Homo sapiens: one gene and its partners. The main gene of each other region encodes a partner of the protein of the gene in region 2 in a complex. Each region holds a gene or a part of one and is shown on either strand. Other genes may lie near its edges. A codon is read from its position in the direction of its gene.

Evidence for each region.
Region 1: the proteins of CALCR (region 2) and RAMP1 are in contact, whole or in part, in a cryo-EM structure (PDB 9AUC), measured with the Homo sapiens proteins. Residues at the interface, in NP_001158210.1 of Homo sapiens: Arg45, Lys46, Met49, Asp50, Gln52, Tyr53, Tyr56, Asp57, Met59, Gln60, Gln61, Thr75, Trp76, Asp77, Gly78, Asn124, Arg126, Phe235, Leu238, Ile242, Thr246, Val250, Ala251, Gln257, Arg258, Trp261, Tyr262, Leu265, Phe269, Ile276; in NP_005846.1 of Homo sapiens: Trp59, Ile63, Tyr66, Arg67, Ala70, Asp71, Phe83, Trp84, Pro85, Val89, Asp90, Phe93, Leu94, His97, Gly98, Phe101, Ser103, Arg109, Ala110, Val111, Arg112, Asp113, Pro114, Ile118, Leu119, Phe122, Ile123, Pro126, Ile127, Val129.
Region 3: the proteins of CALCR (region 2) and GNAS are in contact, whole or in part, in a cryo-EM structure (PDB 7TYY), measured with the Homo sapiens proteins. Residues at the interface, in NP_001158210.1 of Homo sapiens: Arg180, His184, Glu240, Tyr243, Leu244, Leu247, Ile248, Val249, Val250, Ala251, Val252, Phe253, Glu255, Lys256, Ile319, Val322, Leu323, Lys326, Met327, Glu329, Thr330, Lys340, Lys343, Ala344, Ile347, Leu348, Leu351, Tyr391, Asn395, Asn396; in NP_000507.1 of Homo sapiens: Lys34 (codon at 2,595), Gln35 (codon at 2,592), Arg38 (codon at 2,583), Ala39 (codon at 2,580), His41 (codon at 2,574), Val217, Phe219, Tyr358, Phe376, Cys379, Arg380, Asp381, Ile383, Gln384, Arg385, His387, Leu388, Gln390, Tyr391, Glu392, Leu393, Leu394.
Region 4: the proteins of CALCR (region 2) and RAMP3 are in contact, whole or in part, in a cryo-EM structure (PDB 8F0K), measured with the Homo sapiens proteins. Residues at the interface, in NP_001158210.1 of Homo sapiens: Arg45, Lys46, Met49, Asp50, Gln52, Tyr53, Lys54, Tyr56, Asp57, Met59, Gln60, Arg74, Thr75, Trp76, Asp77, Gly78, Asn124, Arg126, Phe235, Leu238, Ile242, Thr246, Gln257, Arg258, Trp261, Tyr262, Leu264, Leu265, Phe269, Ile276; in NP_005847.1 of Homo sapiens: Cys57, Leu59, Ile63, Tyr66, Glu67, Thr70, Tyr83, Trp84, Pro85, Gln90, Ile93, Thr94, His97, Arg98, Phe101, Ser102, Cys104, Val106, His110, Leu111, Glu112, Asp113, Pro114, Val118, Leu119, Leu122, Ile123, Pro126, Val127, Leu129.

The regions. Positions count from the first base shown.
Region 1 is NC_000002.12:237,855,092-237,862,625, reverse strand, and holds the start of RAMP1 (receptor activity-modifying protein 1 isoform 1 precursor), read right to left. Parts: upstream 3,004-7,534; 5' UTR 2,951-3,003; coding exon 2,899-2,950; intron 2,730-2,898; exon of another isoform or gene 2,419-2,729; intron 1-2,418. UniProt on the Homo sapiens protein: Accessory protein that interacts with and modulates the function of G-protein coupled receptors including calcitonin gene-related peptide type 1 receptor (CALCRL) and calcitonin receptor (CALCR). Required for the transport of CALCRL to the plasma membrane.
Region 2 is NC_000007.14:93,571,725-93,579,392, forward strand, and holds the start of CALCR (calcitonin receptor isoform 2 precursor), read right to left. Parts: upstream 3,001-7,668; 5' UTR 2,968-3,000; intron 2,783-2,967; 5' UTR 2,565-2,782; intron 1-2,564. UniProt on the Homo sapiens protein: G protein-coupled receptor activated by ligand peptides amylin (IAPP), calcitonin (CT/CALCA) and calcitonin gene-related peptide type 1 (CGRP1/CALCA).
Region 3 is NC_000020.11:58,887,176-58,894,420, reverse strand, and holds the start of GNAS (protein GNAS), read right to left. Parts: upstream 3,001-7,245; 5' UTR 2,695-3,000; coding exon 2,556-2,694; intron 2,259-2,555; exon of another isoform or gene 1,915-2,258; intron 1-1,914. UniProt on the Homo sapiens protein: Guanine nucleotide-binding proteins (G proteins) function as transducers in numerous signaling pathways controlled by G protein-coupled receptors (GPCRs).
Region 4 is NC_000007.14:45,153,842-45,160,799, reverse strand, and holds the start of RAMP3 (receptor activity-modifying protein 3 precursor), read right to left. Parts: upstream 3,010-6,958; 5' UTR 2,972-3,009; coding exon 2,914-2,971; intron 1-2,913. UniProt on the Homo sapiens protein: Accessory protein that interacts with and modulates the function of G-protein coupled receptors including calcitonin gene-related peptide type 1 receptor (CALCRL), calcitonin receptor (CALCR) and G-protein coupled estrogen receptor 1 (GPER1).

The DNA of each region.
Region 1 (7,534 bases), on a different chromosome or scaffold from region 2:
ACACTACACATGGCACCTGCATCACACAGTCAGCCAGACGCCAGTTGTAACTGATTAGAAGCTATGAAATGGGCGCATTCTGGGGAAAAAAATCAGGACAGACTTTTCCAACTAGCCTTAACTAAAGATTCCACCTAAAACATTTCCCGGAGCTGAATCTACCATTTGCACTGTGGATATAAATGTTTCTCAACAGCCCTGGCCTCGGACTGGTAATAAGCACGCTGACAGGCATGCGCCTGTGGAAGGAAGACAAAAATCCAGAAATTTCTTCCTGCAGCTAGACACACAGAGAGGGTAAACAAACACACTGAGTTGATTAACAAATAAGAATCCTTCAGATTTGGACTTTGGCATGAGAACTGTGTCCAGATTTAAAACCGCATGGCAATCTGAAGCAGTCACATAGCATTTCCTGTGATGTCCCTGTCATTCCAATTCTACTTGTATTTATATAAAGTCATACATTTCAATTAATGTTGCAGCCATTAAAAAAACCCCTGGCTCCCACGTGACAGCCAAGGAAGGCATGCGTTTCCTAGGACAGGTGACTGAGTTCATGTGTGACAGCACCAGCCAGCATTCCCTGAGTGAAGATGGACTCGAAAAACCAGGGGCTTCTAACGCATCCTTCTTTCCTGGTTAACGAACAGCTTTTCGGTGTCTATACACAAACTTTTCAGAATGCATGTAGAGTCTCCAGTAAACAGAAGAGTACACAGGATGCTCAGAGGGAAAAGAACTATATATGGATCCTAAGTTTTTTTTTTTTTTGAGACGGAGTTTCACTCTTATCACCCAGGCTGGAGTGCAGTGGCATGATCTCAGCTCACTGCAACCTCTGCCTTCTGAGTTCAAGCGATTCTCCTGCCTCAGCCTCCCAAGTAGCCGGGATTATAGGTGCCTGCCACCATGCCTGCCTAATTTTTTTTGTATTTTTAGTAGAGACGGGGTTTCACCATGTTGGCCAGGCTGGTCTTGAATTCCTCACCTCAGGCGATTCACCCACCTCAGCCTCCCAAAGTGCTGGGATTACAGGCGTGAGTCACCATGCCTGGCCGGATTATGAGATTCTTAATAACTACCTAAGACAAATAGCTTGATTGTAAAATTGTCACAGATAAGTTCTTAAACCTGTAAACTAGAGTACTTAAAAAAATTCCACATTGCCATTCTTGGTAGCAAAATCTTCATCACCAAGGAGACCTGGCTAGTGCTACAGCTTGGGAAGGAAACAGCCTGTGCTCAGTAATTCTACTAATTACAGCTGGGCTCCAATGACATTAATTTACTGATAACCTCATAAAGTTTTGTTTGTTCTTCCAAGAGATAACATTAGCCAGGCCACTCAAAATAACGTTAAAATTACAGGACTTTGGACTTTCGGCAGAACATGAATAGTTTTCTCGGTAAACAAGGAAGGTCTTTATATGTGATCGTGACATAGTGTTTTATTTACACAAGCTTTAGAGGGTTCAGCCTCTGGACACTAGTAAAGAACGTTTATTTATTTGGTTATTTATGTAAAAAATATTCCACAACCCAGCTCTCTGCCTTGCTAACAAAGAAATGTTTGTTTCTTAGTAAATGAAAACAGTGAAGGCCATGTCAAGCCAAATGGAGAGAATAAAATTACTGCGAGATTCTGCTTTCCACGTAACTTCAGCCAAAACTCTAAAGTGGCAAGATCCGCTTTCAGATTATATTATATCGGCCTCTGAGGATTCTATGCAGATCTGCCACCCCTTGGAGAGGTTTACAAATAGGGAACAGAAATCCATGGCTCCCAAGAAGCCCTGGCCCCTCTCCTCGCTGGGCCACGAACCACTCCCCCAGCTACAACAGCGCCGGTGGTCCCTGCTTGCCCAGTGCCAGCGCCAAAGAGGTCTTGTGCGGCAGGTGCCTCTGACCAACATCACTGTTTCCGGGGAAAGGCCACACATACCAGAAACAACTGCTCCGGCCTTCCCAGGGACACTGGGTTCTCCCACGCCAGTAACCTATTCACAGTTTCCGTTAAAAGGTAGCTAAATACACGGAATAATGCAATAGCCAAAGCGGTTTAGAAGGGGCTTGAGTTAGCATTTTAGGAACACATTACAGACAAGGGAAGTGAACAGCACCGTTTCTTGCCGAGTGTGTGGCCAGTTCCTGTGGCCATGAGGCTGCCGCTAATCTCCACTTCTCCCTCCAAGTGGAAAGCCAAACGTGTTCCACCACTTCACCAAGGGACCCGTCCTTCTTTAAATTTCTATTAGCCAAAAGTGCCAAGTTAACAAGCAAACCAAAAGAAAAAAGAAAAAAAGCGATGGAAGTGTCCCGAAAAGGGCTGGCCTCATTTCTGCAAAAGACGTGATTTGCAAACAAGCAACTGCTGCAGGCGACAGATTGTCAGTGTTGACTAATTTCCATACAAACCGGCTGTGGTTCTGATTCCCGAACACTGCGTCTTCTGCAAGGTGCCCGTCTGCAGGTTTTGCAACGCGGGACGGCCTAGGGAAGGGAGCCTGCGCTGGCAGTCACCGCGGCGCACAGCCTGAGAAACGAGGTGCGGGGCTGGGGAACCCCGCGTCCTGTTTTTCCTTCTGAAAACTAGTTCTCCAGTGTGCAGGGCTGACTCACCCCACGCTTTCCAGAATGCCCGCTCTCCGACGTCCCCAAAGCCGTCCCTTCCCCGGCGAGAAGCGCAACACCGGTCCGCGCCCTCCGCCTCCCCTGTGCCCTGGGGCCTCCCGCCTGGAACCGGGGCGGCCCGCGTTCAAGGGCAGCGGATCTGTGCGCCCGCGGCGCCCGCCCCCACCCGCTCCCACCCGCTCCCACCCGCTCCCCTCCTCTCCCCTAGAGGACACCGGCTGGCCAGGGGAAGGGAGCTCGGCCGGGACCCCTGGACCTACTCACCCAGGAGCAGCCAGAGGCCGCGCCGCGGGAGGCGGCACAGGGCCCGGGCCATGGTGCACAGCGGTGCCGAGTCGAGTCCGCTCGCCACGCGCCCCGCTGAGGACTGAGCCCGCCGCGGCGCGGGCCCGGAGGAGACGCGCCGGGGGCGGGAGCGGGCGCGGGAGCGGTGGGAGGCGGCGGCCGCGCGGCCCGGCCCACTGCGGCTCCCCGCGTGGGTGCCAGGGCCGGGGGCGCCCAGGGCCGGTAAAACTTTGCAGGGGGGCCGCGCGGGCGTCTCCAGGCCCCTCCCGGGGGGCGGCACACTTGGGGTCCCAGGAAGGCCTCCTGAAATGTTCTCCGAGCAAATAAACACTTTTTAAACTAGGGAGGGTCTCCTAGACGACTCAGCGTGAGGGGCACCTTGGTCTCCACCTGGGGATCTTCCCCTCCTCCTCCTCCGAGGTTCTGGGCGTTCCTGCCTGGTGTTTGCCTTGCAAAAGGCTAAGATCTCCCAGCCTTATCTACCTCTCCGCCCAGGTGCAGGCGCTGGGGAGCGTGGGGGGCAAAACTCGCCACCGCGCCTGGCGAGACCCGTAGTAACCCAAAATGGCGCACACTTACCAGGCCCTGGAATGCTGCTCCAGATCTGCAGGATGAGTGGGTGGGCAGAGGCGGGGACAGCACGGCAGGTGAACAGAAGCCGTGGGGCTGGAGGAACAGGGCTCTTTGGGGGGATTGAGATGGCCTGGGAGTCTTGCTGTTGATGGGTAGGTAGCGAGAGCCTGGCAGGAGGTTGTGAGGGCCTGGCCACAGAGTCTTGAGATGAGGTTTGCTTTGGTGGCACTCTGGCAGCTGCATGGAAAACTGATGGGGGATCTTGGGTACATTCGTTTATGTAAAGTGGTGAGAGGAGGGCGCTCTGGAGATGGGCCGGGGAAGCCTGCGGAGGAGCAGGTTTTGGGAGGCACAGGCCTGGCCTCTCGGCATTACTGGTGGCTGGATTTCACTTGCAGTGGTTCCTTCTTGTATTATCCTGTTCCGAGAACTCTTAGCAACAGTAAATTTATACTTGTGCTAAGGAATGCACCACTGCCCTTGGAGGGGGAAGAATCACCACCCTGGTGCTGCGGCCACAGCTGTCTCTTTTGTGGTGGAAGCTGCAAGCGCACAGCATTGCTGAGTGACCATCGTTTTCTCCTAGGAAAGGGAACAGTCTGTGGCTGAGAGGCTGCTGCCACCTGCAGTAAGCTCAGAGAAGGGGAGACAGCTGACAGCGAGGTCATCCACTGGTTCTTCTAACACAGGCTGGGAGGGCACTCAGGGCCAGCATGCCTACCACCTGTGCAGGGGCCCCAAGTGTTCTGAGAGTGAGGGGTGAGATGGTGGGGGAGGGCACACATTCTCTTGACTTGATTAGCCCTTGTTCTTGAACCCTAGGAGATACACCCCATTGGGTGGCCTGGCATCCCTACTTTCTTCATTTAACAGACATTTGTGTCCCTATGTGCAAGACACTGTTAGATCGACAAGCCCTGCCCTTCAATTGGTGAATCTAGGGGGTGACCTCTAAGACTCTCAATAACATGAGCGCCACAATACAGGAGCCACCCGGAACAAGGGACACTCGCCTCAGCTGCAGTGCAAGTAAGGAGACAAAGGATTCTGGACAAAATGCAGCCCAGGCAGTCCTGAGGGCTGGGTGGAGAGAAGGGCACAAGGGAAATGCAGGCCCGAGCACAGGCCTGGCAGCCAGAGGCCGTGCCATGTGAGAGCAGCACAGCTAGTGGGGAAGGGTGGCTGCCAGCACAGCCCTGGGACAGGGCCACCGTACATCCTGCACTAGGCGATGGCCAGTCATAGTGGGGGAGAAGAACCTGCATCTTTCTGCAGCCATCACTCGCCCTCCATATCCAGGGACTCTGGCTTGAGCCACCCTTTCTACTTGTAGCTTGTGGACTTTGGCTGCATGTTTTTGGTTGGCAACTGGGACTCCTCTTTCATCAGGCTCAGCAGGAGTCTTTCTTCCCAACGTTTTCTCTTTGAAGCTTGACTGCAAGGAGGCAAGGCCAGAGGCCCCTGTCACTGCTGTTTTCTCAACACCCCCTAAAGGATACATTTTCCTAAGAAGACAAAGCCTATTTCTCAAGTTCACATGCTTTAGAAATTCACAGTTCTCTGGAGAATGCTGAAGTAAGGCACACACCTAGAGGCATGTTCTCTCCTAATGATTTTCCTGTCTGTACCTTGGGTCTAAGTAAGACATTCCTTAGCAACTACTATGGGCTTCCCGTCTTCAAAAGTTGTAGTCTGATGTATCTGTATTTCTAATTGGTCATAGGTAGCATGGAAAATCATTCCTCTCCCAGGGTACCTCAATCTAGAGGGGCATTAGGTTAAACAATAGAAGAGATTAGAAAATGGCCAAGTGCTTTACTGCATACACAGTAGGGCTAAAGATACAATCAAAGCCTGGTCAACACTGCTAAAAATTCACTATTAACATAAGATTCCTGCTTCCAGCCGAGATGAAGTTACAGGGACTGGACTCACCTTCCCATCTTAAACTAAAAAACTGGACAAAATGTATGAAACAACAGTTGTCACAGTGGACCACAAGAAGTGCAGGGACCCCTGAGAGCAGGGAAACAAATAAGGTGAGTGCTACAACTGCTCACTGCCTGGAGTTTGCAGACCACAGATGGAGAAAGGAAACCCAAAGAGAGTCTGGGGAAGCCAGGCAGTTAACGCTGGCAGGGCATAGTACCAGAGAGGAAAGAGCTGCGCAAAGAATGCGCTTGCGAGATCACAGAGGGTCCCACTTGAGTCTCAGCCCACACATCTAAGGACACTACCCAAGGGAAAAGAGCCTAAGAGCCCACACCCAGCTGGGAATAGTTCCAGTTCCCACCAACCATAGTGGAAAAATCTTGAAATACACAGAACATCAGAGCATAATTAGAAGGGCAAGTCCCTCTCTGTAGTCAGTAAAAATTACAAAGGCTATTCTGGTGCTGCCTAACAAAACTTAAAAGCAAGAACTAACAGGAGCAAATGATTTCCAAGTAGCTATTACATCCCGTAACTTAAAAACAATAAAAGAACAAAGCATCAGAGAGCCATGAGGCAACTCCAGGTGGCAACTCTAAGGTGTAACTGGAGCCCCTGGAGGAAGATGGGTGGGAAATATGTGAAAAACCACTATGTGGAACATTTTCTATTAACCCATGAGCCAAGAACATCCCCAAACTCCAAGCACAAAAATCATTTAGAAAAATATGTGAAAGCACATCACGATCAAATTGCCTAAAGCCAGTAATAAAGAGAAAACCTTAAAAGCAGCCAGAGAGAGAAGACATTACGTATAGCAGGGGTCCCCCAACCCCACAGGAGTACCAGATCATGGCCTGTTAGGAACCTGGCCTCACAGCAGGAGGTGAGCAGCGGGTGAGCTAGTGAAGCTGAGGTCCGCATCTTGTTAGATCAGCAGTAGCTGATCTAACCCTACCGTGAACTGTTCATGCAAGGGATCTAGGTTGCACTTCTTATGAGAATGATGATCTGAGGTGGAACCGTTTCATCCCTAAACCATCCCCCTCTCACCCCATGGAAAAATTGTCTTCCACAAAACCAGTCCCTGGTGCCAAAAAGGCTAGGGACTGCTGATGTACAAAACACAGGTAAGGGTGACAGAAGAGTTCTCATGGGATATAATGCCACCAGAATACAATGGAACGTTTTTAAGTACTGGAAGGAAAAAAGCATCAAATATTCTACAGATAGTTTTTCAATAACTTGCTGATATGAAGGGGAAGACTCCACTGGTGTCCTCACTATCAGGCCTGCAATTTAAAGGCTGAACTTCAATCATTATCAATAATGAATCAGTGGTTCTGAAGATAACATGCTTATAAGCAATAACAACTTAGTTCTGTGAGTTGTTTAAATCGTGCAATTGCTGGATAAACACTAACAAAAACAGCAGTATCTCAGGGAACTCAGGTTCATCAACTATCAATTTTTCAAGTCCTGCAGGAAGTCCCACTGTTAAAACCAACACACTTGCAAGTAGCTGAGAACAGAAGTTGCCTATCTCCCCTATTCCCCCAAGAAACAAAACAAACAAAAAACAAGAAGTGAAAAATAAATTCTATATAAAACTGTCCTCAGCATTACTTGGAGAATTTTCCAACTGCAAAGGAGCTGAGTAACAGGGAAAAAATTCCCACCAAATCCCACTACACAACTCACACTCCTATACTACCCTCAGCCAGCCACATGCTTAGTGTGAGCAAAGGCAGACTGAGAAAAATCGTGGAGCCAAGAGGGAGGCTGATGAACAGGCCTACGGGTGATATGAAACAATCTCCAGAAAGACGAACTCTTAACACTCTAGACGTGAAAAATTTAAAATACCCCAATACCATAGAGACAAACAAGAGACAAGTCCATCTAGAGCTACTGCAGAAAACCGGGACATGAAATGTCAGACATACAAACTGAAGGAACCCCTAACCTCTAGGAGACTATATTACAAATGTGTAACATAGCCACCCTGGGTGGATCAGGAATAAAAGACATAACCTAAGCACATTTAGACAAAAGAGCAAAAGACAAAAGAACTGTACACAAATGACGTACTCCAGTTAGTAAATCTGTT
Region 2 (7,668 bases):
TGGTTCGTGGCTTTGAGCGAGTTCATTAATCTAATGGGTCCTCAATTTCCTCATACATAAAATAATGATAATAGCTTGTAACTCACAAGGCTACTCTTAGCTTAAAACATATTTTTTGTAAAAGTACTAGATTATCATTGGCACCGGGTATATGGTAGTTAGTGTGCCAAGGGGAATGATGCTATTTTCCTCTTTCTCCTCTTTCAAAAGGGTACGTATTTGTACTTTACACAGTATACAGGTCTTAAGCAAAAGGAGATGAAATTGTATGTTTCATCAAGTATTATTTTCAACATCTCTTAAAGCTGGAGTTCATTTACTAAAACATTTTCTGGATGGGCAGATCAATTTCAAACTCAATAGCTTGTTTTCTGGATAAAAAATGTTTTTCCGAGAAGCTGTTACGGTCTAAATATCTAACATCAAATATTAAAATATTTTTCTTCTAATTGTAAGATCAAGTTATACATATATATGTATGTTTATACATATATGTTTCTTTTTTTTAAAGAAAAAACTATTTGACCAGCGATATAACAAACAACATTTATTTTTATCAAAAGCCTCCCACATCAATGAGTTCTACCAAGTCTGGTGGAAACCCTCTTGGTCAGTGGCTCTCAATCCTGGTTGCATATTACAATCACCTAAAGAAATACATCAAATTGCAGACCCTTTCCACAGATATTCTGATTTGATTGAATTGGGGTAAGGCTGAGCATCCGTATTTTTTGAAAGTTCTCCTATTAACCCTAATTTGCAGCCCGAGTTGAGAATACTGATTTAGATTATCATTGAAACCATTACCGGTCTCCTATTTCCATTTCACTAGGACTCTAATAAAAACCAACAGTAGATAATATTTCCATTCATGTTAACATTGACAGAGTCTGAGAGGTTCATCAAGAACAGAATTGCCATGGCACAACTAAACTAATAGTTAGCTCCCTTTCTTCAACTGATTAGAGCAAATGCTCTCCATCCACCATCAATCATTACCTCCAGTTTCAAAATGAGAAACAGAAGACGTATTTATATCAGCTATTTCTTTTTAACTTTGAGAATCATGAAACAAAACAACTCCAAGATTATCTATGTGTTCTTATAAACTGGTTATAATGAAGATTTCTTGTTTACTTATTGTGTTGATGTAGCCAATGAATAAACTTAGAACATTTTATAATATGACCAGATATTATTCTTGGGCTATAGTTCATAAAATAAACTACAGGTTAGAGGCATTGAACCAGAACAAATCCTGGCTGATGGATGTTTTGAGTTATGTTAAAATATTGAGTAGAAATGAGTATCCACTGAGAATACCAACTTAAACTGTAAAGGTTTTACAAATCTAATCATCTTAGTTTCTCTCATAATACTGGTGTATAACCAGCAATCTCAACTTTTTAAAGCTGAGTTATTTTACTACTGAACTCATAGGCTAGCAATATCCTATTAGAAATTACACTTTATAAATTCCATAATACTAAAAGCATTCCTACTTTGTCCTTAATGGTAAGTCAACTGGCCCAAATACATAAAATATTTGCTTTCTATGATCATTTAAGACAGACTTAAACTCGGACGCTCTGTAATTTAAAGATTAGCTTTAAGAACTACATTGTAAAACTTTGACTTATTTTGAACATTTCACCTTCAATCACCGAATAATTTCAACAAATAGCCTTACATAGATAACTTGATTCCGGTTAACCACAGCCTGGAAATAGTCAGGGTCTCCTTAAGATCGGCAAGTGAAACCCTGCGTTCTCTTCTTGCATATGTCACATAGTATTAGGTTAAAGCTTTCATATGAAACTTTTCTTAGGTAGATTTGCCAAATAAAGTCTGTATGATAGTTTACTAATCTCAATTGTATTGTTGATTTTTGACTTGGACCTCAAGGAAAATGAATGTTTTGAGAAAAGGAATTAATTTGTTACAGCTTTTCTTGATGTCTTTCACCCAGGCTTGGGAAGAGCATCATGAAAAAGAGTACTCTTTTGGAAACTATGCACACAACATATTTTTCCTAATAGGTGTGAAGAATGGCTGCTATGCATAAATGATTGTTGGAAAACTATTCTCTGTAAAACATGACTTAACAAGCAACTCCATTCACTACTGTGCTCATTTCCAATATCCAGAACAACCATGACACATCTTATAGATGCTGATATTATATGTTTGTCAGTTAATAAACACCCTTTGGGAAAATTCACAACTTTAACCTCCGTAATTTTCCTACCCAATAAGTTGGAGAATAAAACTTTTGAGGGAAAATTGATATGAACAACATAGTAAAAGTCACAAGAAATCAAACGATTCTTCAATACGAAACCATAAGTTGTTGGCTCTTCCCAGGACACCTATTTTTCTTTTTTCTTTGACAAGGGTAAAGTAAAGCATCTAAGACCTAGCTGACCCTACATGAGAACCACAAGCACCGCAATCAAACCACATTTCTATAATCAAAAAGCAAGGTGCCTATAGCACCTGCACTGTTAAACATCCCTTGGACACCCCAAATCGTTAAGTCCCGCTCATTTCCAAACGCTCCTTACCTGGAATTCTGTCACTGGGCGGCTGGGCACAGCTCAATAGAAGCAAAGGGTGTTCGCAGGTGTGGCTCCAGGGACTCAGGCGCTCAAGCTTCAGCGCCCATCTCCTGGGCAGGAGATGTCAGCCGCAGGGTGAGGTGCGGACGTGCGCACTTCTCCAACCCGGGAAGGTCCGCCAGCCGCGCGGCGCAGCCCACCCAGACGCTGGTGGGCTGGCTTTCCTAGTTTGATGCGAGAGCAAACTGCGTTAGTCTCAGTCCTCCCTCTCCGCCCCTCTCCTGGTTTTCTGACACTTTAAATCTGTCTTAGGTGGTTCAGACCCAAGTCTAGGTTGTATTATCAGCTAAAAGACAACTGTTCTTTCCCCTGGCTTGCTTTCTACCTCCCCAGAGTCCAGGAGGCTCACCTTCCCGGCGCCTTCCTGCGCTCTCCCAGCTGTGAAGCTGTGCGCAAACTTCTCCTGACTTAAGAGTCTCAATCCTAGCCTGCGCTCCCGCCCCACCCCCGCCCGCCTCCCGACAGGCGGCAGAGGAGGTGGCAGCAGAATTGATGAGAGCCAGCCCCCCTTCCCGGACCCCGCCACCCCAGTCAGCCCCCTCCTGTCCCAGGAGAGGGAGGGGCGAGCTGGTGAGCTCCGTGCGCCTCGCGCCAGCCCCAGTCGCCCCGGCCCGCGAGTGGGGCTGCGCTCGCGGCTGCTGTCTCGCTCCAGTCAGGGCTGGGGCTCACCCTGCGAGTCCGGGAGACTAAAGCGCCGCGTAAACACAGGAAGCAGGCGAGGGACCCGAGTTAGACCTTGAGTAGGGAGGGAGAGGGGGGCGACAGTCTGGACTGGGAGACAGCTTTCTGGGAGCCCTGTCCCCTCCCCGGAGAATGCAAATTCCGGAGGGAGGTGAGTTTCCACAAGAACCTTATCCCAGAGACATTGTGACCCTGGCTTCTTCAGCCGCCACTCCGGGGACAGCACTAGGGAGCCTGTGGAGGGAGGGTCGGTAGTGGGCTAGGTAGTGAAAGTGGGGTGAGGACGTGGGAAGACGGCTGGCTAAGAGCTGGGGTGCTAAAAGGAAAAAAGTGCTGAGAGGAAGGAGATGAGAAGAGACACCTTGGGGGTCAGGCAAGCCCTGGGAAAGCGTCCGGAGTTGGGCGGCTGTAGGCTGGAGGCATAACTTGGATTTGGAGAAAGAGTGCCCTCCGTGTAGGGGACTGCTGGTGGGCACAGTGTTTTAGGGTGAATGAAAACAGAGAGGATGGCGAGGGAAGACGGGGATATGGGGTGCCTGACTTGGTGCCGGACACTGCGACTCCTCTTCTTTCCCCCTAAAGCCCTCGATGTCAGCAGGAGTCCGGGACAATCCAATACCAGGCGGGGCGCAGCGGAGGCTGGCAGGCACGCCCTGGGAGGCAGGCAAGTTGATTCCAAGGACGAGTCACCCTCAACCTCTTTTAGCCCACAACTGGGTGGATCAAGGCAGGAGCCAACACTTTTTTCCCTAACTCTGTTTAGGCGGTGTTGGACTAAGAAAACAGCATCCGGTGCGTCCCGGGACCACAAGGTGGCCGTGCACCGTCGAGGTTACTAAACACTGTCTCCTTGGCAAAAGAAATAATAGCAATCATTTAATGGGAGGGGAAGAAAGCCAGACGGCGACAGCACACTTTCCCTGGTGATCTTAGGTTCTCATAAGCACACGGGACAACACCGGGTGACAGAGAAGGAGGTGTCCTGTGAATGGAACTGCAGCCCTCACCCAACCATCCTTGGAGCTCTTCCATGGAAACATCAGTGACTGTAGGCAAAAAATGTCCCCGTTTTATTTTGCATGCTCCTGTTTTATTTTGAATCCTCATACCCCACCCCAGAGAGACAACAGGGACCCCTAATTTGTGTGGTTGAGGCTTTCAGGAGATCCAGTGGAGGACAGACTCAAGGATCAGATCAGCTCTCCCACCCAACATTCCAGGGATTTTGTTTTTCCAGGCTCCCTCCTCTATATACTCCCCCCTTCCCTGTCACCTCCAGTCTGGTGACCCAGAGGGCTGTGTGTGACTCACTGTGCATTCAAACCCTAAGGCACTGCCTCACTGCAGAGGAAGATTGTACAGTCCCTTCATTCCCAGGATAAGTGAGAATGATGTTGTTAGCAGTAAGAAATGTGACTAGGAAAGGAGGCTGGGCAACTGGGAGACAAGGAGGCTTTGAAAGGAACATACACACACACACACACACACACACACACACACACACACACACACACACACACACACACACAGACACAGTAACTTAAACAAAGCCTGTATAAGAAACCCTTCCGAATTCAGAACTTAGATAGGAATCTTCACTCCGTGCTGGGTTGGGCTCAATCTGTCTTGAGTTCAATAGCTCCCTGCTTTCCAACTGCTCCTGACCAGCCAACACTTGACCATGACCTCCTTTAAGAATTCTCTTTTGGAATATTAATTACCTTCTTTTGGTGCAAACAGCAGAGAAATATTAAAGTTGTTTGAGAGTCTCCTATGGTCAACTGCTGGGGCCAAACATTGAGAATTTCTCAGGTTGTAGCCCAAGTCACTGAAATAACAATGATTCAGGGAGACTATTGCTGAGTAGAAAGTGTTGCCGCCCTCGGCATTGTGTGATAGAACAAGTACAAGGAGATTTTTCCGCTGGAGGTTAAATCCTAGGGCAGCCTACCTGATATTGATAACCAGTATTCTGAGAGCAGGATGGGCTTGATTCTATAAATCTAATGAATATATGTGGGATGCAGCCCTTAACCATAATGTAAACAAAGTCTAAAAGTTATTGAGAAAAATGGCATGGGTGTATCATAAAACTTTAAACTGTTTGTGGTCTAAGCATAAGCAACCTCAGCTGATTAAAGTGTGAACTGTGTTAGATACAATATTGGGGGAAACAATGAGAGTTCTCTGTAGGCAGAATATTTCAGGGAAGGTGACACAGCAGAAGCAAGATCAGGGATGAAGCTCTCTTGTCCCCTAAGAAGATTAAATTGACTTTGTCAGTAACAGATATTTATTGAACACCAAAGGGGTTATGTACCTGTTGGAAACACTTGGATTTTACAGAAATTTAAGTCTACTGCTTTCTTAATATTATCACAGTATTTCCTACATGGACACAGTGTGGTAAGTTTTTGGAGGGTGGATGTTAACATGGGGATGGTCTGATAAGGGGAATTGGCATTGTTTTGAAAATGTTATGAGACCCATTACTGGATCTTGAAATCAAGTTAGTGGGCATAAGTAACATTTAAAAAATGAAGTGGAATAGGATAGAAAATATCAGAGTTCATCGCCATTTGAAAGCACAAGAGTGGTTTCTTGAAACTTGTCTTATTTCTCTCTCTCTCTCTATCTCTGTGTATGAAATTGCAAAGTAAAATGTATTTCTTTCTGTAGATCACAAAAATACCTAAAGACACTGGGTTAGAATAAGCTATTCTTCAAGTGGAATACCTTATATTTGCAAATAAGCTTTCAAATGAAATTAGTTCATCAAAGGGGCATTCATAAAATAAGCATCTTAAAATGTGGTAGTCACACATTCCTGGTACTTTTATTGATTATTTATTTTAAAATCCCCTGTCTTTATGATACTTTGCCCCTTTCTCTCTGTCCCTCTTCCTCTTTAGAAAATTTCCCCTTTGGACAGTTACTAATTTAGGGAGAAGTATTCTGTGGATCTTGTCTACAGACTTTTCAATGCAAACTCCACTTCAATTATGAAACCCTCCATCTACATTGCTGAGGGTGTGAAGTTCTGCCACTAGCAAAGGATTATCTGACCTCTCAACTCTGTCTTTCCAAGCAAGGTTTGCCAGAGTTTGAACCATACATACCACTTTCTGGACACTTATGGTTCGAGAATTCAGTGACTTTTCCTTAAAAATCACTAAAGTTTTGAATTTCAGTGAATGGAGGGAAGATTGCCCATTATTAAAGACTAGCTCTATTAATACCTATTCCTGTTAAATATGGTTAATGTGAGGGAGGTCACACTTTGTAGAGACTGAAAAAAGTCATTTAGTTCTTCTTGGAAAAAAATTGTTGTAAGGTTAAATAGAGTTTATTCTTTTTTTAACAGGAATTTAGAGAAAAAATTTCTGGACTCTCTCAGGAATCCAATGGTTAACTTGAATAGCTCCCTATCAGCAAAGTTTTCCTTACATTGAAATCCAGCTCAATCCGTTATGCTTATGTGTTGGTAATTTAGTACATATTTAACACCACATAATTTCACAACACCCTTGGCTAGCCGCTTATGGGGGACCCAAAAAGCACAATATGCAGCTCCTACCCTCAAGAAGCCCACAGTCTATTCAAGAACATTTGTTTCTTCCTCTTGTAGTCTCCTTCCAAATAGACAACAGCTGGTAATTATTCTTTATATAATTACTCTTCCTAGATTTACAGGCCTCACCATGACAGGGCAAATAATAATTTGCCTTAGTGAAAAATAAATGTTTTCCTTTGAAAACAATTCGAACTTTGACCTGATAAATCATGCTCTCTTGAAGGAAGTGTCCTGCTTCGATTTTCCACCTGTCTTTCAGAAACAGGAGCTGGGGTACTTGTAAGTCTCTCTTCTCTCCTCATCTTTCCAAGGGTGTGACACGGCTGTGTTTCTCTAGAGAACGTGTCTTTTGGCATGGAAAAAACAAATTCCACTTGAACTAGGAAGTGTCTTTCCAGATTGTACTTACATAAACTTCACTTTGGTTAACTGTTAACTTAATGTGTAAATAACTCAGAGTAGGAGGAGATGGCAGGGACTTACACCATAAAGCAGCAGTGGAAACTAATTGCTCCATCTCTGATGAAGTTCAGAAATATCCATTTCTTATATTTTAAATAAAATTCTAAAGGGAAACCCAGGAGCCAGAAAAAATACTGCAGAAGCAAATGTACGCAGACATTCATTCATTAATTCATTCAACAAATAATGAAAAATTGCGGCCTCAAAGCTTATATTCTAGTGGGAAGAGGGAGATAGGTAACAAACAAAATAAGAAGTAAATTGTTAATTTCAGATACTGACAATGTTAAAATATCATTAACAGGGAACTGAGAGGCAGGCATGGGGTAATGC
Region 3 (7,245 bases), on a different chromosome or scaffold from region 2:
TGTAAAAGTTAAAATTAGTTTCCACAGAAACATTGATTTCAAAGCAAACACTATCTTAATGAGCCTAACTCTGGTAAATTAAAAATATAAATGGCACTATTAAGAGAGGCCAAGGAAACAATACGTAATATTTAGCAGGATCTCTAATATTCTAATTTCAGAAGTGTTAAACTGTGTAACAGTTACAGGACCTATCTTTCATAGGCAAAAACAGATCCGTGCCTCAGTTTCCACATTTATGAAATGTGGCTGAAAAATTATTTTAAGATCATTGTAGTTCTCTAATTCACTTAATTTTTATGTCATTAAGATGGAGTAAAAAGAGGATTTGGGGCATTATTAGGTTTCCTCTTTTGTGGGGAGGCATTATTTGGTGAGAATCACCATTTAAAAATGCAAAATATTGTGTCACTGGCTTAAGCTGCAGATTCCTAGGCCAGAGGCAATCAATACATCATGATGTAATGTAGTCATATAGACTAGGACACTTAGATTAGCCCCCGTGACGCAAGGCGTGTTCTGAGTAACAGTCTCAAATTAAGTGGAGACTTTGTGATCACTGCACAAAAGGTGTTGGAAATTTTAAGATATCATTAGCATCACACTTGACTTAAAGTAGTACTGAGATAGCATTCACAGAAAAGATTCTAGACTTTTCCAGATTTATACTTTGAAATCAAGTTATACGCATACTAATATCCCAACAGCATAATTCTGCCTTTAAAAGTTTTAGACAAGACAGCAACACATGTACCATTTAATTACTGAAATTGCAAATGCATAAACACCAAAGACACTTATTTTGACTTAATTAGTAATTTTCTGCTTTTATAAATCTGGACCCAGGAGAACAAAGTCATGACCTATGCAAAAAGAGCAAACCAAAAGCCACCAAAGGAAAATAAATAAGAACAGCCTTTTATTATTTTCTTTATACTCAAGCTGTTTTGTTGAAATGTGACCACGAACTAGGTCTTAACCTAGCAAATTCACAAATTTATTCAGATAGCCAAATTATCAAGGAAGTGGAAAACTTCCATTTTTAATTAATGCTGTGTAATTCTTTTGGTCATTTCATTACATTTTTTTCCCCCAAAACAGCACCTTAAGAAAAAAAAGGAGGAAAGGCCATCTCCTTATAGTTAACCTTTTTTTATTTTATTATTATTTTTTTAATCAGAGGAAAAATCGCAATCAAAAAAAGAAAACCCAAAACCAAACAACTAAATGTCACTTGATAAACAACTAATTAATGTCTTTTTATCTCTTCCCACCTGGAGGAAAAGTCTCCTTAGAGCACTCTCAATCCCCCCTCCCACCTTGAGGAGGACAAAAAAAAAAAAAAAAAAAAAAAGAAACCACGCCATTTCCAGACCAAGAAGCCATTTACAGACAAATGTCATTCTCCAGTTTTATCTGATTTGTGAATGTCTTTGTTTTTTCTTTTCACAAAGCACTCTCAATGTGGCCAGCCAGCAGGAAAATGTGTTTTTTTTAATGGTTTATTAAAATAGTGTTGGGGGGGCGCTGCTCGTGGTGGGTGGGGGGGGCAGCTGCTACAATTAATTCTCCGCTCTGCTTTTGAAAAAGCCTGCAAGTCTGGAAGGGGAAAAAAAGGTCACACTGTAAAATGACGTGTCATTTGGCTTCACTGGGCACTTCTCGTACTAACTCTATCCATTTTTTGGTGTTGGGGGGTGGTCTTATTTTATTTGACTCTCCTTCTCCTCCTTCCACGGCCCGGCCTGGCCCGGGACACGTCTGCTCCGCGCACACACAGTCAGTCGGTCCTGCCCGAAACGCACCAAGTCGCGCCCAGCGGCAACCGCCCTCCCTCCTCCCCTCGCCGCCCCCCTCCCGACTCCGGCGCCACGACTCCCTTGCGCCCCCTCCCCCCCACTGCACCACCTTTACCGCTCCGATCCTTTCCGAGGGGCTGATGTCACCAGCCCCCCCACTCTCCTCGGCCACTTCTCCCCGCCAAAGCCTCCCTTTGGCGAGGCCCCCTCCGCCACCACGGCGCCCCCCAGCGTCACCCCCTCCTCTCCTCGCCCCTTTCTTCCCCTCTTTCCCTCTCCCAACAAATCTCACACCCCACGGAGGCGGGTCCCCCTCCCTCTACCCGCCACCCGGTTTCCTGTCCCCGAAACCCTCTTTTTGTCGCAGTCTCCGGAGCCCCATGGGCTCCCCCTCCCCCTCCCCAACACGCACCCAAACCCCTGGCGTCGTGTAGGCCTCGCGGAAAAAGAGAGAAAGAGAGAAAGAGGGGGAGAGCGAGAGCGAGAGCAAGAGAGAGACACTGAGCGGGCAGGCCGGGGGAGGGGGACCCGCGCCCGCGTCGCCACGGCCCCCCGCCCCGTTTTTGAGCCCCCGCCCGGCCGAATCCGCGCCCCTGGGTCCCCCTTCCGGCCTCGCCCCCCACAGACAGAGCCCGCGAACGGGCGGGGGGCTCGGGAGCGCGCGCCCGGGGCGGGGGGCGGGCTCGGCGCGCGCGGCCTGCGGGGCGCCCTTCGAGGGCCCCCGGGCCGGGGCCGGCGCCCCCCGCCCGCCCTTACCCAGCAGCAGCAGGCGGTGCGTGGCCCGGTAGACCTGCTTGTCCTTCTGCAGCTGCTTCTCGATCTTTTTGTTGGCCTCACGCTGCGCCTTCTCCTCGTTGCGCTGGTCCTCGGTCTTACTGTTCCCGAGGCAGCCCATGGCGGCGGCGGCGGCGGCGGGGCGCGGCCGGGCTGCGGCGGCGGCGGGCGCGGGCGGCCTCACGCGGGCCGGGAGGGCCGGGGCAGCGCCGGGCGGGCGGGCCGGGCGCGGGCTCGGCTCCTCGGCAAGGAGCGCGCGGGGCGGACTGCGGGCCGCGGGCCGCGGGGCGCGCGGACGGGCGGGAAGGGGAGGGTGTCGGTCGGACCGAGGGGCGCGCGCAGCTCCCCGCCCCTCGAGCCGAGGCCGAGGGGGCTGATGGCCGCCGCCGGGCCGAGGCGGACCAGAGCAGGAGCTGCGGGAGCTGCTGCCGCCGCTGCCGCCGCCGCCGCTCTTATTGCCTCGGCCGGGCCCCCGCCGCCGCCCCGAGCCAAAAGCGCCGCGGCGGGCGGGGGGAGGCGGGGGGAGGAGGAGGCGGCGGCGGCGAGGGGGGTGGAAGGAGGAGGAGGAGGAGGAGGGCCGAGGAGCGGCCGCGGCGGCGGCGGCGGCTGGGAGGGCGGGAGCCGGCGGAGGGAGGCGGCCCCCCGGGAGCCCGGGGAGGGGGTCCCTCCGCCCGCGCCCGGCCGGGGACGGGACGGGCCGGGGAGACGCCCCCCACCCCCCGGGCTCGGGCAGCAGCCCGGCTGAGCCGAGGGGGGAGAGGGGGCGTCTCCGCGCCAGTGACGACCCCTCGCACGACGCCAACGCTCCACCCCCCGGACCGCGTCGCCCGGCGCCCCCGAGGCCTCCTCCCCCTCCCGCGGGCGCCGCCGAGGGGCTGGGGTGGGCGGAAGGGGAGGGAGCGCGCGCCCGGACTTAGGAAAATTTTCGAAAGAGCGAGAGACACAGAGAGCCAGAGAGCAGGAGTGTGGAAAAAGCGAGGCGAGCACGAACCAAAGGACAGAGCAACCGAAAAGGAAAATGTGTCCACACACACACACGAACACGAATAAAAACCCACACTACACAGCGATGGTGGTGTCTGGTGGCGGTGGCGGGGTGGGGGGTCTGACTAGATGAGCCGCTCCTCGCGCCCCCGGCGCCGGGCGCCATGGCCCGAGCCGAAGGCGCCTCTGGCCCCGGAGCGCCCGCGGCCTCTGCGCTTGGCGCGGCCGCCCAAGTAGGAGAAGAAGGCGCAGCCCAGGAACACTCGGAAGCAGCAGGTCGCCCCGAACACGAAGCCGCAGCCGCGGCCCTGCTCCGTGCGCTTCTGCAGCAGGAAGTTGAGCACCCACGAGGGGCTGCGCACCGAGAAGACCAGGAACACCACGAGGGGCAGGTGGGCGCTCAGCGCGCCAGCCTTGAGCGGCCCGGGCCGCCACACGATGCCCCCAACGCGCGGCGCCGCGTAGTAGGCGTCGTCCTCGTCGCTCGAGTCCGTGTCCCAGTCAGCCCAGGCCCTACTCGTGCCCCCGGCGGCGGCGCCCTCCTCGGCGCCCCCGACGGCGCCCTCCTCGGCGCCCTCGTCGTCGTCGGCGGCGGCCGCGGCGGCGGCGGCCTCGGGGCATCGGGCCTCCTCCTGGGCTTCTGGCACCTTCTTCTTCTTCTTCTTCAGCATCTTCTCCATCTTCTTCCTCTCCTTCTCCTTCTTCTTCTCCTCCTTTCGCCTCTGCTCCAGCAGCTTCTTCTCGAGCTTCTTGCGCTCCTTGTCTGTTAGGAACTTTTCGGGGAGCGCCTCCCGCGCCGGGTTCTTGGGGTTCTTCGCGAGCTTCTCGGGGTCCCCGCTCTTCCGCGGCGCGAGCGGCTCTCTCGGCTCGGCCAACGCCGCAGCCGCCGCCGCAGCTTCGGCAGCCACCTCGGCAGCCGCCGCGGCCGTCTTCTTCTCGCTCTCCGCCGCCCGGGCTTTGAGCTTCATGGCCATCTTCAGCATGGTGGCCCGGCCACCTCGGGGAGCTCGGCTCGCGCCTGGCCCGGGCTCCCTGCTTGCCCCCGGCCTCGGGCTGCCCGGCCCCCGTGCGCCCCGTGTCGGGGGGCTTGGCTGCGGTTCCCGCCGCGCTGCCCCGGGGCCGCGGAGCGCGGCTGCCCGGGCTTCGGGCTGCTGGGCTGGCTGCCTAAGAGTTAGCGCCAAAAAGGATGAGCAAACGAAAAAGGGACAAGAACAAACCAAAAAGCACCCAACAACAGCGAGAAACCAAAAAGCACCAAGAAATGTCAACTCAAAAAGAAAAGTGCAAAGGCGCGGATGGCAGGAGTCTGTTTACCCTCAGGCGCTCCTTGGTTTGGCTCTTGGGCACGCCAATGGAGAAGAGAAAAGAGAGAGAATTGGGGGGTGCCCGGAGGCGCCCCGGGGCAAGGCAGCGGCGCCCGGGCGCCCCTGCCTTGTCCCGGACCCGGCGGCTCTTGCCTGCGCCGGGCGACTCGCACTTCCGCGGGAGGCCCCGGCGCTCCCCGACTTACATGTGAGTGAGGTGCACTCACACGCAAGGCAGCGCCTGCCGGCCGCCCGCCGCCGCCCCGCGCCGGGACAGGGGCTCGCTCCAGCCGCCGCGCCGCAGCCCGGAGCCAGAGAGCAGGGGAGCGCCGCGCCGGCCAGCCACCTGACGCAGCCCGCTCCGCGGTGCCGACGCGACTGAGTGTCCCCGCCGGGGAGCAGAGCTTCTAACCGGCCCCGATGACGCCCCAGCCTCTTCAGAGGACCGACCCATAGCAGCGGCCCCTATAAACCGAAGGGGAAGCGCGAAAAATCGGCCCACCGGGGACGCACCCAAATGGGCCGCCGCGCACCCTGGGGGTGCAGGCCGGTGCCGGGACCGCGCGGGCGTGGGCCGGGGGCGCGGGGGCCGCGATGGCGGGGGGCGCGGGCGCGCCCAAGGCGGTGGGCGCTCAACCCCGCCTCCCAGACCTGCCTCCCAATTTTCGGTGAGTGGTGTAGCCCTGGGCGGCGTGCAAAGTGTGCGACGGCGGCGCTTACCCCTGCTGTGCGCCTCCTTACCTCCAGCCACCCACCCCGCCCTCCCAGCGGCGCGCGCCCGCCGAGGTAGGTGTCAGAGAGCCGAATTCGAATTATTTGCGACGCCCGGACGGAGTTTCGTATCTTCGGACGAGAAAAGTGCGATGGGAGTGCAAAGCCTCCCCTGCTCGAAGCAGCAGGCGCGCCGGTGTCACGGGAGCCGAGGAGCGGTGGCCGTGGCTGTGGAGTCGGTGCTCGAGGCGTCCTCCCAGGTGGGAGAGGTGGCGGCCTTGCCTGGGCGCCCTGGGGGCTCTGGAACAGAGGGAAAAGTAGTTTACGGAACGTGAACTTGTTTGAGGGTTCTTTCAAAACTCTCAAGTGTCCCGCCGCACACTAGGATATAGCAGTGCACGGGATTAGGAGCAGGGTTACTAAATTTTCAAGCAGTTGACCCCAGCCCGCCTTTCCTGGGACCTTGGTTAGGTCATCTGCTGCCACCATGGTGTCTGCTGGGATACGGTTTATTCATTCAATAAATGTTTGGTGCCTGCCAGTTCCGCGGCTCACCATGTGCCCAGGTGAGCCGAGGCGGCCAGGTAATCAGGCTAAGACGTGAGCAGTGTCTTGGATGGGACACAGGCCTACGTCCCGGAAAGCCCAGATATGCAAAGTCCACAAACTGTCTTCCAACTTTTTCTTTGACTTCTTAACAGAGCCCATGAAACTTAAGATGTTTGATGGAGAAGGAGAAAAAAGAAAAGTCTACCTATAAATGGAAACACATTTAACAGTCCCCAGGGGTATGGGGCGGCTGATACCACCAGAGGCCTTGAGCAAACTTGTATCATTTTAAGTTAGCTTTGAAAATAAAAAGACACTGTTAGCCATTCAACCGGATGACTGAAATTCCCCCCTTTTCCCCAGTTTGCTCCACTTCGAGTAAGAAAAGGTGTGACAGATGAAGATGCCACATATTATTTTTCTTGGCCCCTTCAGGTACACTGCTGCCCCCATTGTACAAGGCCTCTTTTTTATGAATCTGAAAAGACAACAGAGGGCGATTCAAAGTCACCAAACAACACTTGGAATTAAGAACAGGAAGCGCAGCCTAGACACCGTCCTGCCCTGGGCTGCTGCAGACCCCTGACTTTCTTGAACTTGGCTGAAAAGTTGGGGCCAGGTTTTTGTCACACTCCTGATCATGGATGGCCTCTCTTCCACACAAAAATACACCTTATTTTGAAAATGCTCAAAGGAACTATCCTAGGTTGATGCTTTTCACCTAACCAAAGATGCATAAAAATATTGTGCAGATACACCTGAATGTGCTCATAGGAGAACTCAGCAGTAAGGCCTCAGAATCGATGATTCCTAGGCTGCCTGTACTAGTGATAGTGAGGCTCACTACCATCCACCACCTAAATTAGAACCGCTTGATGACACAGCACAGGTTCTATATCTTTAGATGGTAAATTAAAAATTCCTGGCTGAATTTGATTGATTGTCATTTTTAAAAATTGTTAAAGACTTGTAAGAGGGAAGAATAGGCCAGACATTTTTGTTATGCTCCATTTGTTCAAAAGCATCTTCCTTCCTGCTTCTACTGTGGCAAAGCACAGATACATTGTCTTTAAGAGGTACAAGGTAAATAGTAACAAATACAACCTAGATACTTATGCCAGGAG
Region 4 (6,958 bases), about 48 Mb from region 2:
AGAAATCCATTTTGGTTGGTTTCATTGGGAAACAAAGAACATGCCGGCCTGTGTTTCTTTTGTCTCAGGGACTTCCAGACGCCACTGAGAGATGATAAACAGCCAAACAGATGCATTTCCGCCAGAAAGGGCTTTTGTGGCTAGTCATTTGGAAATGAAACACAGGCGCTCTCCCCCTCCTTGACAGAAAGAGCATCGACGAGACTGGCAAGTGGCTGCCATGGGCCACGGTCAGTCGACCTTGGGAGGCTGTGGATTCTGGGCGGTTCTGCCCCTGGTCTCTGTGGTTGGGCAACTTCCTCTCTAACCTCCAGATTTCTGTTTCCTTATGAAGAATAGGTAAGAGCATGGAGGTCAGATAACCTCCAAGGAACCTCCAGTGCCAAAAATCTATGGGCCTCTTCTTGGCCAATCACCACCTTCAAGTCTTTTTTTTTTTTTTTTTTTTTTTTTTTTTTTTTTTTTTTTTGAGGCAGAGTCTCGCTTTGTCACCAGGCTGGAGTGCAATAGCATGATCTCGGCTCACTGCAATCTCCGCCTTCCAGGTTCAAGCGATTCCTCTGCCTCAGCCTCCTGAGTAGCTGAGACTACAGGTATGCACCACCACACCCGGCTAATATTTTGTATTTTTAGTAGAGACGGAGTTTCACCATGTTGGCCAGGATGGTCTCGATCTCCTGACCTCGAGATCTGCCCGCCTTGGCCTCCCAAAGTGCTGGGATTACAGGCGTGAGCCACCGCACCCGGCCGGCCACCTCCAAGTCTTTAATTCACCAGAGTTACTGCTATCCAACCATGGCCCTTGGGCCCACTTGATTCAGTAGAATCAATATGACCACAGGTAACATGGCAGCAGGACATCATTTAATGATAAAAACGATGGTACCATGTTCATACGCTTGCACACACAGGCACACACACTATGGTGCTCCATCTTTGGGTGCTGTGAGTGAGCCTCATGAGGCCCAGTGCAGTCACTGGTGGGTGCCTTCCCATACCTCCCCTTGTTTAAGCATGAACCCTTCCACCCCACAATCCCATGCCCAACACAAGGTGATAGGGACTAAACTGAATGGAATCAAACTGACGGTCTCAGCAGCCCTTTACAGATTGCTATTATTACATCTACATTGCAGCTCGGAAACTGAGGCCAGTGAGTGCTTTATAATCTTGGGATCATGATCAGGATTTTCACCCAGACCAGAAGAGTCCAGTCAAGAGCTGGGCACCACAGCAAAGTGTCCTGCTGAGTAGACAACTGCTGGACTTCGCATCCCCACAGCCCCACACAGCATCAAATGCTTTCTGGAAAAAGGTCTGGAATTCTCAAAGAAGCCCCAGAGGCCTGCACCCTCCCTGCTGGTCCTCCTGAGCTAGTCCTCAGTCAAGAGGAACCCACCCAGCTCCTTCCTTCCAGACACAGCAGCATCCAGGGCAGATGTGGGTTCCAGTCCCGGATACCTCTGACACATCGGCCTGGGACCATGAGCAAGTTTTACCTCTCCCTGAATCTCACTCTGGCCAGTCGAACACTGGGAGGGTCTGCTGAGAAGCTGGACCTGGTCCCTATTCTGGCCAGGGAGCGTGAACCCATGTCCCATTGGAGGGGGACAGTCAGGACCAACACAACAGGACAAAGAAGTGGCCCTCAGGAACTGGGTCCACGAGAGACAGGATTATTAAGGGGGGATTCTGTGCAGGCGGAAGCCTGTGGTCCTTCTCAATTTGATACTGGAGATGATCAGGAAAGCCTCAGCTTCTCCCAGAATGAATTGAGAGGACCTTCCTTCCACTATAGCGACCAAGATCTCCACCTAAGGGGCGCTCACTGGAAGTTTGCTGAAATCCCAAATCAGCATGCTCCTGATTTCAGAAGCTGCCATCCACCTTTGCACTTCAACACAAAATCCACCACATCCTAGGCTCCAGCCCTGGAACACCAAATGAAGCCACACAAGTTCTGCACACCAAGACCTCTTCAATGGAAGGAAAATGACCACTGAGTTTGGTCCACCCTTTTCCCACCTCCCGTACCAAATCCCAAATCATCAAAACAGGCCCAACTCTGCATCTTACAGCCAGGGAAACTGGGGACCACCAGGCCAGGGCCCTCCATCACCAATGTCCCCCCCAGAACTGGCCAGGCTCAGTCACCACTCAGTGGACCCCAGCCCTCAGCAAGCACTCTTCCCCAACAGCCTTTACACACATTCTCTCTCTCTCTCTCTCTCTTACTTTTTCTTGGATAATTTCTTTAGCAAGGTACTTCAAAACAAGCTTTTAGTTTAATCTATTTCCATTTTGTGAGCAATGGTTCTTCCTAGAGTCCTGATTTCTTGCCGAAGAAGGCATTAGGAGAGGATGGCTCAGAGAGTCGCCCCGCTTCCCCTCTCAGCCAGTTCCAGGACACACACAGGCGTCCACACACTGAGGGGCCCTGGGAGGACCAGCTACCCAGTCCGGAGTCCACCCGCCCACGCCCCTGTGAGTGGTGGGCAGGCACTCAATGCCAGGACAGAGAGCTCACTACCTTACAGACAGCCCACCCTGGGGGATAAGGGGTAAAGAGCCAGACCTGGTCCACCTCTTCTCGCCCACCCTGAGGCGACCCCAGAACCGGGGCGTGGGGGGACATCACAACTAGAAGGACCGGGGGCTGCCGGACCCTGCCGTCAGAAGACCCCGGAGGGGGCCCTGTGCCTCCCTTGCCCGCCAGAGTCCTTCGCCTTCAGCTTCTCCCGGGTGGAACCCTCCCGCAGAGCCTGGGAATCCCGCCAGGGTCACTGTGCGCCCCTCCCGAGCTCCGGGGCAAGGGAAGGACCGCGGCGCAGGTGCGGGAAGGCGCGGGTCCACCCGGGTCCGGTGAACCCCGAGGAGTGGGGGCGCCCCCGGTGCGGGCCGTCGCCCCCTTACCGCAGAGCAGCAGCAGCAACGGGAGAAGTTGCGGGCGCCGCAGCGCTCCAGTCTCCATGGCTGGCCGGCCGCAGCTGGGTCACGCTCGGTCCCGCTGGGGGCGCGGCTGGGGGACGCCCGGTTGGGGTTGGGGTGGGGCGGGGCCTCAGGGGGTCCGCCCTCAGGCCGCACCCCCAGACCACGCCTGCGGCCGTGCCCCGTTGCCTCCAGATGTGGGGTGCAGTCCCTGCAGGCGCGCCGGGTGGGAGGGATGGGGGCGGCTGGAGTCTCAGCGGGGTGAGAGGGGGGCGAGGGCAGGGTTTCGAGCTGGGGACAAGCTGGGGTAAGGTGGGGTGCCGGCTGATGGGCTCTGAGGGCGGGGCTGGGGTGCTGAGCTGCAAAGGAGCTTTTTGGGAGCAGATTGTAGGGGCAGACTGGGAGGTGAGCTGGGGTGAGCGTGGGGGCCGGCTGACGGTGGGCTGGGATGCAGGCTGGAGAGACTTGGGGAACTTCCGTCCAGGCTCAGGGGCAGAGGGTGGGGGTAGACCGGGGAGGGAGCTGAGGTGAGGATGAAGCGCTGGCTGATGATGGCCTAGAGGAGTCTGGGGGTAGACTGGAGGAAGGTGGACCTGGGAGTGGGCTAGGTGTGCCCTGGCCGAAAGTAGACCAGAGTCCAGAGCTGCCCCCAGGCAGGGAGGGGAACTTTGAGCAGAGATACATCTAGGAGCCAGGTCTCCAAAGGTCAGGAAAGTGCATAAAAGAGGTTGGGGGGTGTGTGTGTGTGCGTCTGTGTGTGTGCGTGTGTGTGTTGTTCATGGAGTACGTGTGTGTGATGTGCATGTGGGGTGTGTGTAGATGCATGTGTGTGCATGGAGTGTGTGATGTATGGTGTGTGTGTGGCATGTGTGTGTTTGAGTCTGAGACAAGGTGTGTTTGTGAGTGTATGCTTGGGAAACAGTGTGTATGAGAGAGACTGGAGGGTGTGGCAACTACACACACAGAGACGTATCACACACCAAGAACCAAGCCACAAGCAAACCAAGGGACAGGAGAGTATCTGGCACCACCAAAGACCTGGCCTTGAAGAGTGTCAGGGTCCCTGAGGCGAAGGAGGGCCTCAGTTTCTCCAGCCACAGGTCACTTGGCCAGATGGGTCACCTCTGTCACCCTCAGCCCCTAGCACAGGCCCTGGCTCCAGTGGACACTTAATGGTGTCTTAAGAATTGTCACTGGTCAGGACTTCCGAGAGCCAGCTAGAGGCACCTCTCTGCCCTCCAGGGCCCACCCACCACCCCTGGGGGCACATGCTGGTCTGAGGTTGGGGCACAGGCCCAGGCTCCTACATGGATGGGCCCTCCACTCCTCTGAGCCGTAGGTACTGCTACCTTCCCAGGAGCTGAGCTGAACTTCTCCTGGCTTAGAAAGACCCACTTTATTTAACAAGACCCTTATTCGGGAGAAGAACTTTCTGTGCTTTTTTACTGAAGAAATTCTGATTACAGCCAGAATTAATTCAAAGGAGTCAAAACTAATTAAAATTGATCATTTGTCCTGCCTTCTGCCTGAGGGGTGGGCAGCAGGTGTAGGGGTGGCCACAGAGCCTCTAGTGAGACTGATGGTGCCCACAGCCAGGCCTTCTGCCCACAGGCCAGGGGTCATAAAACAAGCTGACCAGGGCAGCAGGGGGCTGGCTTACACACACGCACACCCTACACCAGCCAAGACAAACCAAGAGGATGGTCCAGGCCCAGGTGTCCACCCACATCCCACACAGACTCGGCCCTACAGCTCTCTCCAGGAGAGTCTTAGTCTCCACTCGGTCCCACAGCCCCAAAGGCGGTTGCACATAGCTTGCAGGCTGGAACAGTAGGATGGGGTTGTCAGGTGGGAGGGGGGCAGCCAGTTCCCCCAAGCCTGCACCAGGGAGCAATGCTCCCTTTCCTGGACTCCCCACCCTGGCTCTGCAGTGGGGAAGCCCTGGCCATTCTACAGAGTTGGGTTCCAACACCTCTCCTCCATGGAACCAACCATGCCCCAACAAACTCCCAGGGAGTTGTGTCTACTGCCCCTAGGTCCCTCTAAGGCAGGGCCCTCACTTCTCCTCTCTGTGCCCAGTGGTGCCCATGGCCTCTGCAGGGCAGGTGGGTTTAACACAGGCTGTGAGGAGCTGAGCCATGGGAGAGAGGGACCTGCCCCTTCCACGGTGCATCCCCCCGACCCTGAGTGTGGAAAGGCTGCCGCCATAAATGAGATTGACCATGGGGTGTGCCCTGGACAGCACCTGTCTCCCTGCTTGTCCCTCGGTGGGTGCTGGCCCCGGCACCATTCCCTGTGTCTGCGATCCTGTGTGCACTGGGGTCCTCTCAGGAATCCCCTCTTAGCGTTCATAATTATTTATTTATTTTATTTATTTATTTATTTATTTATTTATATTTTTTTTAGAAGGAGTTTCATTGTTATTGCCCAGGCTGGAGTGCAATGGCATGATCTTGGCTCACTGCAACCTCTGCCTCCGGGGCTCAAGAAATTATCTTGCCTCAGCCTCCCGAGTAGCTGGGATTACAGGCTTGTGCTACCATGCCCGGCTAATTTTTGTATTTTTAGTAGAGACGGGGTTTCTCCATGTTGGTCAGGCTGGTCGCGAACTCCCGACCTCAGGTGATCCTCCTGCCTCGACCTCCCACAGTGCTGGGATTACAGGCGTGAGCCACCGCGCCCGGCCGGTTCATAATTCTTTACACCAAACTTCCCCATTCAGGTTGCGGTGTAGTCTCTCTCCTGATCAAGCCCTGATTCACCATTATCATGATATTTATTCTGTGATTCCTCTTATTCTTAAATAGTTGTAAGAGAACATTTTCTTGACACTCAAGTGGCCTCTTCTAAGAGGAAGAAATAACATCCTGGTGTTTCTACCAGATCAGGGGAACACATGGCCGCTGGGCCTTCACTCTCCCTGGAAGTAATGCTTCTGCCCGGAGTCCACGTGTCCAGGCAAGGGCCTGAGCACAGAACCTGGTGAGGTTTGGGATCTGGTTCTGCTTGCTCTGGGGCTAGACTTCAGGAGGGTGGGGGTTGAGAAGGAGCCAAGGGAAGCCATTCCCGGGCACCTGGCTCCCCCTGCTGGACAGACACTGAAATAACGGTATCATTGTCGATGAGACTACGCCTCTGTCCCTGAGGCAGCAGCAACGCCTCGGTGACCCCTCTCCAGGGACACAGAGGACCGGTCTTCAAAGAAGGGTGATGAAGGAGATTCCAGGAAGGGGTGCCTCTGACCCTCAGCTGTTTTCCACCTTCCCACGGATCAAGACACAGCCTTCCATCTCCTGTTGCGTTTGTTTGCTCATTTGTTTAATTGCAATAAAAAATACTTAACGTCAAATCAAGCATTTTAGGATGGGTGTGGTGACTTATGCCTGTAATCCCAGCACTTTGAGATGCCGAGGTGGGCTAACTGCTTGAGCTTAGGAGTTCTAGACCAGCCTGGGCAACATGGTGAAACCCCGCCTCTACAAAAAAAATACAAAAATTAGCCGTGTGTGGTGAGGTGCGCCTGTAGTCTCAGATACTGTGGAGGCTGAGATGAATTTCCTTTTTTTTTTTTTTGAGACATAGTTTTGCTCTTGTCACTCAGGAGTGCAATGGTGCCATCCCGGCTCACTGCAACCTCCACCTCCTGGATTCAAGCGATTCTCCTGCCTCAGCCTCACAAGTAGCTGGGATTACAGGCCCTCCCACCACGCCCAGCTAAATTTTGTATTTTTGGTAGAGATGGGGTTTCACCATGTTTGCCAGGCTGGTCTCGAACTCCTGACCTCAGGTGATGCGCCCACCTCAGCCTCCCGAAGTGCTGGGATTATAGGTGTGAAGCACTGCGCCCGGCCTCCTTCCTTCTTAAGGCTGAATAATATTCTGTTGTGTGGATAGACCACATTTCATTTACCCATTCATCTGCCATTCATTTCCTTTTTTAAGTCAATGAAGCAAGTTTACTTTCATTTTATTTTATTTTTGAAAAACCTATCAGAAAATGTCTTGAGGAAAATACATTAAAATGTTATCT